Homo sapiens: one gene and its partners. The protein of the gene in region 3 purifies or fractionates together with the protein of the main gene of each other region. This does not show direct contact. Each region holds a gene or a part of one and is shown on either strand. Other genes may lie near its edges. The genes, in order: RAP1A, OCIAD1 and INSC.

What was found.
Region 1: the proteins of INSC (region 3) and RAP1A purify together in Homo sapiens (affinity purification with mass spectrometry; one large-scale study listed by BioGRID and IntAct). This does not show direct contact.
Region 2: the proteins of INSC (region 3) and OCIAD1 purify together in Homo sapiens (affinity purification with mass spectrometry; one large-scale study listed by BioGRID and IntAct). This does not show direct contact.

Annotation. Positions count from the first base shown.
Region 1 is NC_000001.11:111,703,289-111,706,788, reverse strand, and holds part of RAP1A (ras-related protein Rap-1A precursor), read right to left. Parts: intron 3,454-3,500; coding exon 3,313-3,453; intron 2,447-3,312; coding exon 2,303-2,446; intron 1-2,302. UniProt on the Homo sapiens protein: Counteracts the mitogenic function of Ras, at least partly because it can interact with Ras GAPs and RAF in a competitive manner. Together with ITGB1BP1, regulates KRIT1 localization to microtubules and membranes.
Region 2 is NC_000004.12:48,841,065-48,844,796, reverse strand, and holds part of OCIAD1 (OCIA domain-containing protein 1), read right to left. Parts: intron 2,162-3,732; coding exon 2,108-2,161; intron 1-2,107. UniProt on the Homo sapiens protein: Maintains stem cell potency. Increases STAT3 phosphorylation and controls ERK phosphorylation. May act as a scaffold, increasing STAT3 recruitment onto endosomes. Involved in integrin-mediated cancer cell adhesion and colony formation in ovarian cancer.
Region 3 is NC_000011.10:15,243,739-15,247,570, reverse strand, and holds the end of INSC (protein inscuteable homolog), read right to left. Parts: exon of another isoform or gene 3,831-3,832; intron 1,660-3,830; coding exon 1,531-1,659; 3' UTR 363-1,530; downstream 1-362. UniProt on the Homo sapiens protein: May function as an adapter linking the Par3 complex to the GPSM1/GPSM2 complex. Involved in spindle orientation during mitosis. May regulate cell proliferation and differentiation in the developing nervous system.

The DNA of each region.
Region 1 (3,500 bases), on a different chromosome or scaffold from region 3:
ACATTGCCTACCTCACAGCAGCAGATGGTTCAGTGATGAGGGCAAGTTCGAACTATAATATTTGGTTAGAAATGCTGAAAGGCCCCAGCCTAGGTTCTTCCTCATCTCTCTGAACTATAGAAAAATCTAAAGGGAACACAGAATAGAGTTTCTCAATCCCTCTCCCATTCCTAAATTGGGTTGTCTTGATTCCAATTACTATTCCAGCCTCAGCAAAGAACAATTAATTCTTGATTAAGACTACTGTGATTCTGGCATAGCCATATACTACTTTAAGAACGTTGCAAAGTGGTGTGAATAAGAGTTTTTGAAAAATTATATATATATATATATGAATGAATTAGGGGGCTCTTTAGCCAAGCAGTATGTCCTGGTGTCTGTTTTCAAATTTAAGGCCAAGAGGTGAATTTTTGAAAGTATCTCTCTATACTTCAGGCATTCAAAACTCACAAAAAAATTTACAAGGCAAAAGTTGTGTGAGGAACTATTAACTACCAAAGAAATCCTGTAGCTGGATTATTGGGTTATAAAGAGAAAAATATTAAAAGAAACTCAAATTATCTGCTCCATTCTCCCCACTCTCAAGAACTGAGCATAAAGTTTGTATGTTTTCCAAAAAGTAAAGATTCTTGAGATGGCTAATGCATTTCATTTTATGGTTTTTCTATGTTTGTTTTTATAAACCCTCGTTTATAAACTCTCTGCTTTAACAAGACTGCTATGAAAAAGTATCTCTGCTGCATTGGAAACTAATCCAGAGGAAGTTTAATAGCATGTAGGTTCTCACAAACATGTAGTGTACTGTCCTCTGGCTCCCAAAGGGAGAAGTCCTATGCACTGGACTCAGGCCCAACCCAGCCCCACCGGAGCCTGGAGTCTGATGAACTTGGTTGGTGGGTCCCATGGAGGTAAGGACAAGGACAGCAAGGAACCACATCCCGTAAGGCCAATTATCTTGTAGATAGTGACCTCATGTCACTGTTCTGCTAGCCAAACATATTCACAATTTCTAACAAATTCTTTATCAAAATCACTTTTTTTCTTTAATTATTGCTGAAAGACTTGTTCCCCCAGTAGGATGCAAACTTCTTCAGGGCAGGAATAGTGTCTGTCTGAGTGACTGTTACCTGAGGGCCTGACACAGTGCCAGACACACAATAGTCAATAAATATTTGCTGAATAAATACAATTTATAAATTTCTTGTTTTTATGTACTTGTTAAAAATGGTTTCACATAAAAAAACAAGCTTTGGCATTCTTGATTATCTGTAAAATACAGAAGTTGAAGCAAGCTTAATTTTTTTTTACCTGCCAGGTGTTTAAAGTAACCTGGTCATTTTTAAAAGTCAAATAGTCTATAAGCATAATATTAGTCAAGAAAAAGTGGCCAGCAGAACCACAGGCCAGAGAGAATAGCAAAAACAGAGGACTCATAACTTAACCCACTCTCACTCTCACCTATGTAGTTAAGTGATCTGAATTCTGACTGATTACCTGTAATGCTACAAATGGCAAAAGCAACGGCAGGAAAGAAGCCCACTCTGTTGTTTTTATTTTTTTAAAAGGCTTATGTTAAGGTTAACAAAAGCAAGGGAACTATTTAAGGTTGACTGGTGGGGACAGTTGGAAATTGCTCTAAATTTTTAGGGGCCCAGTAAACTAGTAAACTGTTGGCCCTTTACACCCAGGCATGCAGCTTATTTGCTAAGTATTCTTGTCCACAGCTGTTTTCAAGATAGTGGAGTGCTTAACCCAGTGACCCCACCCCCATGCCCCACACAAAAGCCTTGTGCATCAGCTGTATCAGGCCTAAAGGACTGAGTGAATTCCAGGTACATGTCCATACCCACACAGATTACCCACTTATGAGTCATGCACCAAAGGTGAGGTAAGACTCAGAACACAATTCTGTGATATCCATAAAAACATATTATTTTCCAACTTGACTTTACAACCTATTTATATACATTTGGGTAAATAATTATTACAATATAAGGTGATGTAACAATTTTTACACACCACTTTATCGCATATCACTTAGAGGCTTAGCAGGATTTTACACACATTCTTCAATTTTAGCTTCCTCTTTTACAATAAGGTAAATTTAAGTATCCTCATACAGCCATCAAAGTGACCTTATGCAAGCTAAAAAATATAGTTTCCAGGAATTACTTAGTGTTTCCTATAAAATTATGGAATCAAGATTGCTTAAAAGATAAAAATTTTTTCTTAAAAGTCTGGCTGTTAACTTAAAGCAAACTAAAAAGGCACTTGTTTGTGCTGCCCAGCAGTTGTAGGTTACCTCATTAACATTGATCTTTGACTTTGCAGAAGATTCTAAAAAGGCACAGTTACACCACTGTCTTGCTAAATTCTGGCCCTGCTCTTTGCCAACTACTCGCTCATCTTCCAGGTCACATTTATTGCCAACCAAAATCATTGGAACCTGTGGGAAGAAAAAAACGTAAAATGAACAATAACATACTCATTACTTAGCCTTTTAAAAAAATAAATAAGCAATTATCTGCCACCAACTGAAATGCATTAGTTGGGACCGCAAGCTTCATCAAATACTAACGAAAAGTATATGTTGAGGGGAAGAGGCGAAGGAAGAAGGAAGAGACAAAAAAAAAAAAAAAATGGAAGAGATCCTACTACATAGATATGCCAAATTATTTTAAGAATATAATCCTGGCCAGGCACAATGGTTCATGCCTGTAATCCCAGGGAGGCTGAGGTAGGAGGACTGCTTGAGCTCAGGAGCCTGAGACAAGCCTGGGTAACATAGTGAGACCTGGTCTCTACTAAAAAATTCAAAAACAATCAGCCAGGCAGGGTGGCACACACCTGTAGTCCCAACTACTCAGGGGGTTGAGGTGGGAAGATCACTTGAGCCCGGGAGGTAGACTGTGATGTGTGAATTATACCAATGGAATTTTAGAAATAAAAACACACCACTATGGATCTTAATAATGTTCTTTGAACACTGTTTCTGACACAACCATCACCTTTCAAAGCTCAACTCAGGTCCCACTTCTATGAAGTATTCTTTGGCTCCTCTTTTTCCTCTACTGCACTTTTTAACCTATAGCACAATGAGTACTTTATCACATATGTCCTCATTTTCTAAACATCTCACCACATAATTTTGAGGTTAATTTTGAAAGTTAAATTTTTTTCTTTTGGTCACAGGGGCTCTTTCAGGCATGTGGTAGATAGCTTCCAAATCCTCTACTAATAGAGAAAACAGGCACTTTTTTATTTGGCCACAGAGAGATGGCATAACATCTTACAGAGAGAAAAAATACTTACATCTTCCGTGTCCTTAACCCGTAAAATCTGTTCCCTCAGGTCCTGTAAGTCGTTAAACGTGGACTGAGCTGTAATAGAATATACTAGTGCAAAACCTTGGCCGTTCTTCATATACAAATCCCTCATTGCTGTAAATTGCTCCTATGATTTAAAAAATATGCAATTATAAATATATAAATTTCTTGAAT
Region 2 (3,732 bases), on a different chromosome or scaffold from region 3:
TTTTATATCAGAGACTTAAGCTTTTGTGGATTTTGGTATCCTCTGGAGGGTCCTGGAACCAATCCACACAGACACAAAAGGACCACTGTACAAAATGTCAGGGATTTTGATTAAATGCAAAATGTCTTGGTGGATTCCAAATTCTTTTCTTAAAGTCTCTCTCAATTTTTACCTTTTTTTTGAGACAGAGTCTCGCTCTGTTGCCCAGGCTAGAGTGCAGTGGCGCCATCTCAGCTCACTGCAGCCTCCGCCACCTGGGTTCAAGCGATTCTCCTGCCTCAGTCTCCTGAGTAGCTGGGACTACAGGCACGCACGACCACGCCCGGCTAATTTTTTTGTATTTTTAGTAGAGATGGGGTTTTATCATGTTGGCCAGGACGGTCTCGATTTCCTAACCTTGTGATGCACCCGACTCGGCCTCCCAATATCACTTCTACCGTACCCTCAAGTAGCCCAAAGTCTTCAACTGCACCTAAACCCAAAATCTCTAAAAAACTTCCTCCTCTTCATAACCTAATCCAAATTATAATTTCTCCTGGCTCTACTTCAGCTATTTAATGGATTTTTCACTCCTCCCTGCATGATTTTGTCTCTTCAGTTCAGTCCTGATTGCCTCTCCCAATAGTTATGCCTATTTGTCTTCATCATCAGGTCCCTCCTTCCTGGTATGTTCTTTCTTCTCATTTAATCTAAATCCTGCCCATCCTTCAAAACCCACTTCTTTCAAGAAACTTTCCTTGATTACAACAGCCCTACAAAGATCTTTCTTCTTTGAACACCTACAACTCTTAGAGTCTCTACTATACAATTTAGTAGCTTATTAAGTATGTAATTAAATTTTCTATTTGCTTCAACATATGTTCACATCCATTTGTTTCCTCCAGTGAACTACTAGCAGCTATTAAATTCTTTTGTGTAACCTTCTGCATACCTAGCTCCAATCATTATTAAATGACACACTGGATTAAAATAGATAAAAGAAGCAGAACAATAATAAACACTGTAATTTCATCCCTGTGCCAGTTTTTCCTACAAAGAATGTAATTCAAGTGGGGTTTTTTTTGTTTTGTTGTTGTTGTTGTTGTTGTTTCACAATACAGAACCAATCTCAGTCTATAAAACAGCTTAGTCTTAAGGACATATAAGTGCATACATCTTGACTCGCTTCTATGTTTAAGATTTTTGTCATGGTACTGTATTGTAATGAAGTTCTTCAGAAGTTCCTTAAATAAATTTTTACCCCAAAAATCCTCTCATTTGCCTCCAAAACTACTTTTATCAACTAATTGTGTCAAAACTAAGTACCATACATCATATCCTAATGTGAAAAGGCTAAATCTTCCAATCATTAAGTCACATTTTTGAAGGAGCCAGTTAATTAAAACAATAGGCCTCCAGGCCATCCTAAGGTCACCATCCTTTTCTGGGACACCTTCCCATTACCAGATAGATAGTTCATGAAGTAAAGGAATTAAGCAACTCTACTGCTTACTCCACTACATTTTAAATGCAGGACTCAAGACATTTAATACTCAATCTAAACTCAATTCCACTACTGTACTATTTGAGCCAATAGACTTTAGGACAAGAAAGTCTCCTCGGTGGCTCGTTAAAAATAGATCACCTGCCAGACCCCTGAGATTCTGATTTTTTAAATAATGCTAACTCACCGCCACTCATCCGCCCCAGGTGATCAGACAAAGCTGGTTTAGAGAGCTACTGATCTTTAAATCATTATATAAGAATCACTTCGAATTTGTTAAAACACAGACTCCTGGTCCCCATGAATGTGCATTCTAACAAGCTCCTAGGCAATAATGTTGCTATTGGCCCACCTAGACCAGGTTTGCCCTGCTAATACTGGTGTTTAGTTACCTTCTTGCTCTTGCAGATTGTTAATGATGCTATTAGTGCAGGAGAAATTCTCAAGTCATGATATTTGAGCCAGTGGGTCCACAGAGATAAAACGTTTAAATTCATCAATGAATTTCTACATAGTGTTTAATATGATACATTGTTATCTTTACTTTTTCTAAAGACCTGGAAAATACCACAAAACAAACATGGTATCCAAAATGCTAAATAAATTCAAATTTTAAATATTTACCTTTACTAATTAATCCTTGAGTAATCAACATACTTGTTGCAGCCAAAGGCACAGCTATAGGAAGAAAAAGACCTTGTTAACATCAACAAAAGTAAAAGATTTTGTCTAAAGTTCATTAGATAAATGAATAGCAGTAAAACCATCTAGGAATTATATTGCATAACTAAGACCTTTAAAAAAGACTGTTCCATTTTTAAAAGCTGTACTGTATACATAGTGGAAAAATTAAAGGAGCATTTTAAATTTAAGAAAACATCACAAAATATTAAACAATATAATTCATGAACCATCTAGGCTTAGGTTCCAAATAGCCAGCTGTTCATCAACAGCATCAACTAAGACAACACAGTAAAAGTGACTCAAAATTACTTCTGAAGTAAGAGAAGGGGAAAAAGTTAATGAAGGAGAGGTAAGAAACAAGTTACAAGTAAGAACCACTACTGAGTAATGACTAAATTCTGTGCATCATGCTAAGCGCCTTATGTGCATTATCTCATTTATTATACTTTTTATCATATTTCTATAAGGTAGATAATGTTATTACCACCCTTTTAAAGATAAGGAAACTGAAGCTTAGAGATGTTAAGTAATTTGCTCAAGGCCAAACAACTAGTTGAATGGTTGGTTACAGATTCTAATAAAATCTGTCTGATACCAGATCTCAAGCTTTTAAGCTCTAGTATACCATCTAAACCAAAATACAAAACATATTTGACCGTAATCATACGGTGGCTGGGGCAAAAATTAAAAAGCACATATTTTAAACACTTATGTTCTTTCTTCTAAACTAGTGAACTCCTTAAACTATATGAAAATATTACATCTATATATATATATGCCTAAAACCGAGAGTGAAAAATCCAAAACTCATAATCTCAAAGGGGGCTATAACTTAAAAACAGCTATGAATCACTGTTCTTTACACCAGCACTGTCTAACAGAATTTTTTATGATAATGGAAGTTGGTCTTTGAGTGACCAACCCTGTGATCAATTTGGTCTTGGTACTTGACTGGTAAACAGTTCCCCCCATTGATATGCGTAATTGGCTCACTGTGCCCAAACTGTTTGTACAAATACAGTTCATGCCAAACATCTGCTTTCATTCTAGGAGTCTGGAATTTTGGTACCTGTTAGGCAGAGGGTGAATAAGTGACCAGCCCCCAATAAAAACTGTGGGCACTGAGTCTCTAATGAGTTCCCCGGGTAGATACAACTTCACACATTGTTATGACTAGCTGTTGGAGAAATTTACACTCCCTGGGAAGAGAACTCTTGGGACCTGGTTTCCGCCGGACTTCACCCCATGCTCCCTTTCCTTTTATGATTTTGCTTTATATCCTTTCACTGCAAGTTATTTTAAAGTTAAATTGCTACATGTGACTACTGGCTGCCACACTGGACAGTGCTGTTCCAGACCTGAGGTTGGCAAACACGTTCTATGAAGAGCCAGATGGTAAATATTTTGGGTTTTGTGGGCCAATCTCTGTCCCAGTTACTCAATTGCCGTTTTAAAGCAAAAGCACCGAAAGACAATCCAAAAACACATGAACGTAGCTGTGTTCCAACAAAACTTTATTTTTAGATGCAAACATATGAATTTCATGTAATTTCACACGTAATGAA
Region 3 (3,832 bases):
TCTATACTGAGAATAATATAAAACAAGTCCATGGCACCTGGTTAATGTTGCACAAGTGTTTTCTATCGTAATAATAATAATCATCATCACATTAGGTGGGAGGACCTAGACATTACCTTTGTATATAGCATATGACTTCAGCACAAAGGCTTTGGTAATAGCTATTGCCAGAATCAAATCCTAGCACCACTTACTAGCTACTGACCTTGTGCAAGTAATTTAATAACCTGATCATATGTAATAACATATATGAATATACTAATTAATACTCATGTGATTATTGTGAGGAATAAATTGGATAATGCAAATTAGATGCTTAGCCCAGGACTTGGTTCATTAGGTTAACTCATGTAAACTAGTAATTGGGAATTTAAGAAATGTTTATTGAAACATTATTATAATCATGATTTTACACAATTATATTATATTGTATAAATTATATCACAATATGATGGCATTTATATTTTCAAAAGGATCCCCAGATTTTTGTGATACTTTCAAGCAGTGAAATTGGTAAACCAGCTCTCTCTAAAAAAAAAAAAAGCGAAAGCTGTGCTTTATAGCATCTGTGAATTTCTGTGGTGTAAATACTCCCACTATGGCCAATTTCAACATGAGGGCTCATGAAGTAGCTCATGGCTACCAACGCAAGGTCACTGAGTGCAGAGTTAGGAAGAAATTCTCACAGTTGTCCCTTGTGAGTGGGCATGAGCTGGCTTCAGCACACCACTGCTTTCAAGTATACTTTTGAGGAGGAATCAATCATTCAATAAGCCTCATCTGAGGATTCTATTCACCAGGAGGTGAACAGGAGGTTACACAAAAGCAAAGAAGCCAAAGGAAGCAGGGTTTCTGGTGCCTTTGGGTGTATTTTTGAAAGTCACTTTGGTTTCTCACTAAGTCACTCAGAACTTAACCTATTTATACACCTATGAAAACAAGACAATTCTGTGTGTACTTTTAATGGTTGGAAAAGTTTTTGGGGAATGAAACCTGGGAAGCAAGAACCTAGTTTAAAATACAATTTAATAAGAAAATCCGGGATACATTTTATATGATTCCATTTATTAAAGAAAAAGAAACTTCTTTCCAATATATTCTACCCAATTATTAAATTCATTTTAGATTTTTGGGAAGAGCAAATCCAACTTAAAAAAAAAACTTGCTAGGCAGTTGAAATCCTCTGGTTCCAAAGTTTTAAAAAATGAGGCAAGATTGTATAGTGAGAGTAGAAAAAATAAGATGAAGTGGAATCACCCATGACAATTTGTCATATTTGTCATTACGAATTTCAACATCTGCAACTGAAAAGCTACAGAAATCAAAAAATAAAACACAAAGAAGATTCTCAAGGACCAAAGACTGTTTGATGATGTTGCTCTAAGATTTTGTCCTCCATTTATTTCACACAAAAATAAGTTAAGTATAAATAAGAAGATGAGGAGAGCTGGTATGTACTCAGATGTGTTCACTGGTGCATAGTCAGAGGGGGTGTGAGAACAGCCAAATGTATTTCTTCGCCCACACTCACTACACAAAACTCTCCTCCATGTTGCTGCAGAGTAAGAAGGAGTCCACCAGCCGAGGCTGGACCAACTGCTGAAAGTCAGAGTCCTGGAGGCCTTCAGGGCAGACCCCAGCCAATCTACGCAGAGCAGCCTGGGGAGAAGACAGAAGAGGTGACACGTGTCAGACTGGGCCATGTCAGGTACATGTATTTCCTTCACCTACCCTGAAATGTGCATTTCAGAAAGTGGTGCATTTACCAGACAATTTGGGTTGATCATCATGTTAGCCACTTGGCATCTCAGTCACCATCTTGGTCACCTGGTCAACATAGCAACCACATCTCTTGGTCAGCTAGCTTTATTTGCACCTTGATCACTAAGATAGATGTCATCTGAAAGCTGTTAATAATCTTAATAATGGTCTTTATTATTTCCAGATCCCTAGAGTAACCTTAGAACAGCAAGAACTATTCATTCATCCATAAATTCAGCAAGGTGCTATAGAAAGCACTATGGAAAAAAGAGGAAAAGAGAGGGAGAACATATTGTAAAAGTAGACAGGGATTCTGCTACTGAGAAATTCAACACCTGGCAAGGGGGATGAACAGGAAAGAGAGGTGCTGGCAGAATAAAATCACTCCCCAGCTCCCCACACAATGAGCAATGAGTATGCTATTTCTATTTTGTGTCCATGTGTCCTTGCTCATATTCTTAATCTTCAGCCCAATGCTCTACCTCTGAGCTATACCCCCTCCTCCTTGCTCATACTCTTACTTGTGACTTGAAGTGACTTCCTGCTCCTGCCTATTGTCACCTCCCCCATGAAGGCTTCCCCAATTATCCTGAAGCAGAGACAGTCCATCCCTCCCTCCCCTGTGCAACCAGGGCCCCTGGGCTGACCTCAAGCTTCTCACACTTGGCCATAACTAGCTTTTAGGTATTTATCTCCCACACTAGACTCTGAGCTCCTCGAGAGTAAGGATCTTGTTTTCTATTTCTCTGTATCTATAGCAGACAACACAGAGGTTGGCACAGGGCTCAATAAATGTTGGCTGAAAAGAAATGAATAAACGAAGTGCTTTAATATTGAGATCTGCTGATAGAGCAACCTGAAACTAAATGTGAGCTGTGCACCTACCTAGACCTGTTTACCAGTTAACTGAGACAATGCATGCTAAGTGCTTGATAAATATTAATTTCTTCCCTCTTCCTGAGCATATACACAGCAGGGAACAAGGTGCCCCTCCTCTCCCACCCCTGGAAGCAAAAAGAGTGGGGGAATATCTAGAATGGCAAAAGAAGCAAAGAAGGAGGGAATGCAAACACTGAGAATCTCCCCATAGCACCTCACTTAATCCCTACATGATGCTGCAAGCTAAGTGTCATGATCTCCCTTTTGGAAATAAGGAAACTAGGGCTCAGAGGGGGAAAGTGGCCTTCCAGACATCACACAGGAGTCTGACTCCAGGGCACTCAGACCTATGCACACAGGTAGGATGCTGCAACCCCAGGATACAAGGTTATATTGAGCACAAGGCAGGGGTACCACTCATTACCTGGACATGGCAGGTAGCCTGTTGCTGAGAAATCAGGCCAACAAAGTGAAAAGAGAGGATAGTTTGAGCTGGTTGCTGGGAGTCACAGGTGCTGTCATGTCCAGGCCAGGTCAAAGAGAAGGAGCGTGTGTCTCTGTGCATTAATGAGCAGGGTCTGTGACCCTAGCAACAGGAAGTAGACTCCCCAGAACTGCCTCTAACACACACATCTCGACTCTCATGGGGCGTGGTTTACCCCATAGACTAACAAGGGTAAACTTCACAGCACTTTCTGATTCTTCTTGGCTCCAACTGGGAAAGATAACCCCATTTTCCCTGAGTTGTCACCATGAAAACAGAACCAGGGATTTTCTGAAGATGAGGAAACAAGGCCACCAATGCATTTTTGCATCATTAGGGATAAAAATAAAGCAAGAAGGGAGACAAGGAGACAGAGCGAAATAGAACATAGACCTATCAAGAGAGCAAATAAGACAGAAAAGGGAAATAGCCAAGAAACAGAGAAAAAGAGACAACAGAGAAAAAAGAACAAGAAGGAAATATTAAAACAGACAGAGATGAACTTGGTGAAGAAAAAAGACCAAGTATAAAAAAGAGATGGAGGAAAAAAAAAAAAGAAATAGTGGCAAAGAAAATAAAAGAGAGAGCCCTTAGGGGGAGGGGAGATAATAGGAGAGAGGTAGGGTGAGGTAAGGAGGCAGAGAGAAAAAGGAAGGAGTAGAGAAGGAGAGAAAGGAGTTATGGTGATAAAAAGAGGGGAAGAAGGGA